2 linked regions of the Homo sapiens genome follow. The protein of the gene in region 2 binds, or shares a complex with, the protein of the main gene of each other region. Each region holds a gene or a part of one and is shown on either strand. Other genes may lie near its edges. A codon is read from its position in the direction of its gene.

What was found. Proteins that work in one complex are often made in the same cells at the same time.
Region 1: the proteins of EIF2S1 (region 2) and EIF2B4 are in contact, whole or in part, in a cryo-EM structure (PDB 6O81), measured with the Homo sapiens proteins. Residues at the interface, in NP_004085.1 of Homo sapiens: Met30, Tyr33, Met45, Arg55, Arg57, Arg75, Glu79, Lys80, Tyr82; in NP_001029288.1 of Homo sapiens: Asn245, Glu246, Glu247, Arg250, Thr285, Ser520 (codon at 617), Ser521 (codon at 614), Asp522 (codon at 611).

The regions. Positions count from the first base shown.
Region 1 is NC_000002.12:27,363,798-27,367,338, forward strand, and holds the end of EIF2B4 (translation initiation factor eIF2B subunit delta), read right to left. Parts: intron 3,405-3,541; coding exon 3,277-3,404; intron 3,140-3,276; coding exon 2,962-3,139; intron 2,088-2,961; exon of another isoform or gene 1,280-2,087; intron 1,102-1,279; coding exon 921-1,101; intron 803-920; coding exon 603-802; 3' UTR 555-602; downstream 1-554. UniProt on the Homo sapiens protein: Acts as a component of the translation initiation factor 2B (eIF2B) complex, which catalyzes the exchange of GDP for GTP on eukaryotic initiation factor 2 (eIF2) gamma subunit.
Region 2 is NC_000014.9:67,384,286-67,387,028, reverse strand, and holds the end of EIF2S1 (eukaryotic translation initiation factor 2 subunit 1), read right to left. Parts: 3' UTR 513-2,743; downstream 1-512. UniProt on the Homo sapiens protein: Member of the eIF2 complex that functions in the early steps of protein synthesis by forming a ternary complex with GTP and initiator tRNA. This complex binds to a 40S ribosomal subunit, followed by mRNA binding to form a 43S pre-initiation complex (43S PIC).

The DNA.
Region 1 (3,541 bases), on a different chromosome or scaffold from region 2:
ATAAGGTTAGGACTCTCTTTTTGAGACAGGGTCTCACTCTGTCACCCAGGCTGGAGTGCAGCGGCACAATCATGGCTTACTGCAGCCTCTACCTCCTGGACTCAAGCAATCCTCTGGCTTCAGCCTCCTGAGTAGCTGGAACAACAGATGAGCACAACCATGCCCAGCTAATTTTTATTTTTTGTAGAGACCGGATTGCCATGTTGCCCAGGCTGGTCTCAAACCTCTGGGCTCAAACAATCCTCCTGCCTTAGCCTCCCAAAATGCTGAGATTACAGGAATGAGTCACTGCACTCAGCCCAGGACTATTTGTTTTCATATTCCTCCTCACACCCAGTTTAGTGTCTGGCATGTAGATGCTCAGTGAATGATTGATTTGGGTAGTTTTGGTTCTTTATACGGGTCTTCAGGTTAGTCCCAATGTACTGGCATGGAGCTAGTTACTTGAGCAGGTCTTCACAAAGGTCTGAGTAGCAGGTGATAAAAGGGGTTGTGAAGTCTGGACTCCTAACTTAAGTGGTGGAGATGCTAAAAGAGAAACAAAGGCAGCAGAGTTGCTGAGGGTAGGGAGTATGGCATTTATTAACCCTGTGTTTCCCCCGTCACTGGTCACTGCTCTTGACTCGTAGAACAACAGGTACAGAACTGCAAGGGATCATCCCCAGCTCCGTGATCACCAGATCCACAAGCTCTGGGGGAGTCACATCATAGACTAGATTCAACAACCGTAGGGATGCGTGGTTCTGCCAGTTAGCCAGCGCAACATGTTCTCCCCGCTTACATTGCAGATCATCAGGGTCATCTGCAATGGAAGGCGTACCCATTATGTTCTTTCAGAAAAGAAGTTCTAGTTTATCCGCCCCTCTCCCTCCCTCTCAAGTCTTCACAGGTAGCTGGAGGCTTCTCTTTTGCCTCCTTACCTAGCTCATTAGAGACAAAGGCATCAGTCTGCACACGCTCACAGAACTTGTATGTTTCACAGCAAACCAGCACTGGTACATTATGGGCTCGAGCCACCAGGGCTAACTGTGCTGTCCCTACCCGTGACATCACAGACCCGTTGGCCAAGAGTGCATGAGCTCCCAATAGCACCTTGGAAACCTGTTTCACAGGAGAAGAGGAAGAAAAAAATGTCATTGTTGTATCAATGCAAAATAAGGTCCCCTACTTACAGGACAGCAACATTAAGACAAGTAATAAATCTCAACACCTGTGAAAAGAAGGGAAAGAAACAAAAACAGACAACAAGTAATAAATCTTTTTTTTTTTTTTCTTTGAGATGAAGTTCTGCTCTTGTTGCCCAGGCTGGAGTGCAATGGCGCGATCTCGGCTCACCACAACCTCTGCCTCCTGGGTTCAAGTGATTCTCCTGCCTCAGCCTCCCGAGTAGCTGGGATTACAGGCATGCACCACCACTCCCAGCTGATTTGTTGTATTTTTATATTTTTAGTAGAGACGGGGTTTCTCCACGTTGGTCAGGCTGGTCTCGAACTCCCAACCTCAGGTGATCTGCCCGCCTCAGCCACCCAAAGTGCCAGGATAACAGGCGTGAGCCACTGAGTCCGGCAATTAATAAATCCTTTTTTTTTTTTTTTTTGAGATGGAGTCTCGCTCTGTCGCCCAGGCTGGAGTGCAGTGGCATGATCTCGGCTCACTGCAAGCTCTGCCTCCTGGGTTCACGCCATTCTCCTGACTCAGCCTCCAGATTAGCTGGGACTACAGGCGCCCACCACCACGCCCGGCTAATTTTTTGTATTTTTAGTAGAGACGGGGTTTCACTGTGTTAGCCAGGATGATTGTGAACTCCTGACCTCGTGAACTGCCCTCCTCGGCCTCCCAAAGTGCTGGAATTACAGGCTTGAGCCACTGTGCCCGGCCTAATAAATCTTAATGATGGCTTTTCTTCTGTGAAAACACCTGACCACTGACCCACCAAATCTCCCACAGGAAAAGTAAACTTTGAAGTTACTTTTGTCTTGTTCCCTCTTCCTGGTTGCTAGTTTAATGTAATGTTTTTGCAATAGCTAGACTGCTGTAATATACTGTCAGTGTTTTTCCAATTAAATAGAAACAGAGCTATATAATTATTTTTTTTGACACAGGGTTTCATTCTGTCACCCAGGCTGGAGTGCAGTGGTGCAATGACAGCTCACTGTAGCCTCAACCTCCTGGGCTCAAGCAGTCCTCTCACCTCAGCCTCCTAAGTAGCTGGAACTACATGCGCATGCCACCATGCCCGGGTGTGTGTGTGTGTGTGTGTGTTCAAGCAGTCCTCTCACCTCAGCCTCCTAAGTAGCTGTGTGTGTGTGTGTGTGTGTGCGTGCGCGCGCGCACGCACTCAAGCAGTCCTCTCACCTCAGCCTAAGTAGCTGGAACTACATGCGCATGCCACCATGCCCGGGGTGGGGGTGGGGTGGGGTGTGTGTGTGTGTGTGTGTGTGTGTGTGTGTGTGTGTGTGTGTGTACAGGGTCTCATTATGTTGAGCAGGCTGGTCTTGAACTCCTGGGCTCAAGTGATCCTCCTGCCTTAGTGCTGAGATTGCAGGCATTGAGCCATGGCACCAAGCCAGGGCTATATAATTCTAATATTTTTAAATAATTGTGGCTGGGCACAGTGGCTCATGCCTATGATCCCAGTACTTTGGGAGGCCGAGACAGGGGGAACTGCTTGAGCCCAGGAGTTCCAGCCTGGGCAATGTAGCGATATCCCATCTCTACAAGAAAAATAAAAAACTAGCTGGGCATGGTGGCACACACCAGTAGTCCCAGCTACTCAGAGGCGGAGGTGGGAAGATCACCTGAGCCCAGGAGGTCAAGACTGCAGTGAGCTGTGATCACGTCGCTGCACTCCATCCTTATCTCAAAACAAAAACAAAACTGTAACTTTGGGAAGGTGAGATTATGTCTATACTACTACACCTTTTCACCGCCAACTTTGGAGTCCTTTTCCTCTGTACTTACCTCTGGGAGCACATAGGAGGCTGCAGGAATCAGCAGGTAGGAGGCTGGGACACCAGCATGGACTAGAGAACGTAGTGTGTGCCTTCCTTCCAGCCATGGCCGGCTGTCCACCACTACCACCCGAAACCGCCGGCCCTCTGTCCAAGCCTCCTGAAGAATTCGTGATACCAGAGATGAGCTAGAGTGAATGAAGAGGAGGATTCAGTTATAAATGTCAGTAACTGATGACTAACTTATTCCCAAAGGCAAGTGGGTAGTCCCTTCTTCAGATCATTCCAACTCCCAATCTGCTCAGTCACAAGGTCTGGACCATACCATCCATATACCAGGATCACATCTCCATTACTGATCTTCTGGTAAGCAAAGCGTGAAATTGCCTGAGCTGCTAGCACAATCTTCTCTTGCACATACCGATCAATGGCTGCTCGAAGTTCTGACTTGGCCTAAATGGAGTAAAATCCTTAGTGAACAAGAAATGGACACTTTTATCCCTCTGATGATCATGCCAGGTGCTTGAATATGTGTATGATGACAAGCCTATAGAGGGCTCAGAGATGGCACAAGTCAGAATGGCCAAACC
Region 2 (2,743 bases):
TACACTGGCCATGCCATAATGTTGAATAAAACTCTCTTCTTATGAGGTTCTCTCTTAACTTCTTTGGAATTAGTAAAAGCTGACAATTTGTTTCTAGCTATTAGAATCCCATACAAAGTTTATAGTTTTCGAGCAACGTTTCAAGTATCTCTGTCATTAAGACATAGTTCATCTTAAAGTGGGGATGGTGGCCAAACTTTGTACATTGAGAATATTGTTTTGCTTTAGAAAACAAGCCTGCATAAATATTATACATTACAGAAGTCATGGACTCTGTCGGAGAACATAATCACGTATACGAAAAATACATTACATAGCTTTTCTATGAAAAATGGGCATTTAGCAATGCAGAGTAAGAGCGCTCTAAAGGACAGAAAAAGATGTAAATGGGGAAGATTTATATCAAGGCATTAAATTTTGGTTTTAAAATGAATATAAGCTGAGACAAATAGGTACCAAGAAACTTCACCAGTTGGAAGGTTAATCTGTAGTGAAAAGTCTGTATCATACAATACTTTTAAAGAACATTTTTATTACTTTCAAGTTTATACAGTAATCTGGCACAAGCTATTGCCAGCATTCCTGCCAAGTACAAATGCTTGGACCTCCCCTTAATCAACAGATAAAATACATAACTTACATTTAAGGGGAGTGGATACCTCAAAGTGCTTAAGTAAAAATTTGTTCTCTTTAATAGTTTGAACTGTCCCTTGTTAGTCGTGTCTAAAACATTGACCTGAATAATGAGAAATCACAAGCTAATGTTTTACTTATTCCTTATATGGTAAGAGACTACCTTTTAAAGCACCATTTTCCATTTGGCATTTCACCAAGGTCTAATGTCCCTGGAATTAGTTTTTTTGTTTTGCCTTTTGAATATCGATAGGTGTTCATCTGAATTAAACTACGTTTAGTTTGATGGCTTCCTGCCTCCAAATTGGCAACAGTGTACCTCACTTTGTATGGGAGCTATCAGGATCTCCATAGGTTGCAAAGTAGATGACCATTACCTTGGGGTTGGGGCAAATCAGTGAACAAGTCTCGGCAAGGTACTGGCATTTGTATTTTTAAAAAAATCTCTAGCCATTTTGTTCTTGGTGTAAAAGTAGAATGGCTGAAGTATGGCAGCTGAGTAATAACTGTTCTTCTTAGCATGATGTAGTGCTTAGCATGTCTCTATGGGTCCAACTTTGAACATTATTAAGAACTGGTTTGTCTTGTTTTGCTATAACTGATATGAAAAATGGTTTGGGTGGGGCATGGTGGCTCACACTCTTACAGAGGCAGAGGCAGGAGGATAGCTTGAGCCCAGGATTTCGAGACCTGCCCAGGCAATATAACACCATTTGCCAAAAAAAAAAAAAAAAAAAGAAAAAAGTGGTTTGAATATTCATATTTCTTCCTGGCCATTACTGATTTTCAATTAATTTATGCATAAATGAGACCCAAACTATCACTAATTTTCAGCTATATGAATTGATAGCCACTTGACATCAGTGAAAGGTACAGTAGGGAGTAGATGAAATTGTATTTTTAATGAAAAGGCTTTGATGGGAGATTCAAGATTTTTGGTTTTTTTTTTTTTTTTTGAGACAGGGTCTTGCCCTGTCACCCAGGCTCGAGTGCACTGGAGTGATCACAGCTCACTGGCCTCAAGTGATCCTCCTGCCTTGGCCCCTTAAGTGCCAGGGTTACAGGCATGAGCTACCATGCCTGGCAGAAATTCAAGATTTGGATAAACTTACTTCTTTGCCAAGCCTGTTCTTCAAGTTATTCAGAACTGGGTGTATACCTTGTCCTCATATGTATCTTGTCCCTGCTGTCTTTTAGGTTAGCAAGGTGTATGAATACTTTTAAGTTTTGTTTGTTCTTTTCCTCGTGGTATCAGTGAAATACTGATCTATTCTCTGGCTAGGGTCAATTTACAAAATTGCCATGGAACTGAGCAAAAGGCCCACGTGGGATAAAAATCACTCACCATCGACGCCACCAGTATTTTTCAAGTTATGGCTTTTGAAGTATAACAAATTTCAGTAAACAAAATCAAAAGAAAAAATTCCTCTGCGTACAACAAAGAAGCACCTGTTATATTTTGAATGCATTCTTCATGTTGCCAGCTTTCTAAACTTGTTTTTTTGATGCCTCAACAGACAGAAGTGAAAATTATATGCCACTCTTAAGTACATCCAGGTTCTCCTCTACATATTCCCAATATGGAATGCTGGCTAGCAATCATGGCACTCTCTCAGAAACCAGCCACTGGAAGTTAAAACTTCTGGATTTCAAAAGCTAGTACAGGCTGCTAAATTTAACAAAGGAACAAACCTTCATAAATGGTACAAACTACCTGCCCAACACACTCTTCTATTTTCCAGACCCTTTAATATTGAGTAGTCTAGTCTTGGATTGACTATGGTGGGTTAGGTCTAATCTAAGTATCTTAATAGCTATCTAGGGATAATGAATAAAATTAAATACAACTGGTACCTCAAGTATCATAAGAGAATAAATTTATGAAGACAAGCAGACCAAAGCAACTCAAGATTTTCTACACCTGACTACTGTAGCTGTAACTTCAAATAATGTGTTACCTATGAAACTTATTATGTACGAATTAGTTCTTAAAGACAGAAATGATGGAAACATGTAAAAAAAAAAAAACAACAGTAAGTGTTCAAACAGATCCCTGTTTTGTTATAAAGAACTGGAGCTCTAGGTGGCATCTAGTGGATATTTTAATAGC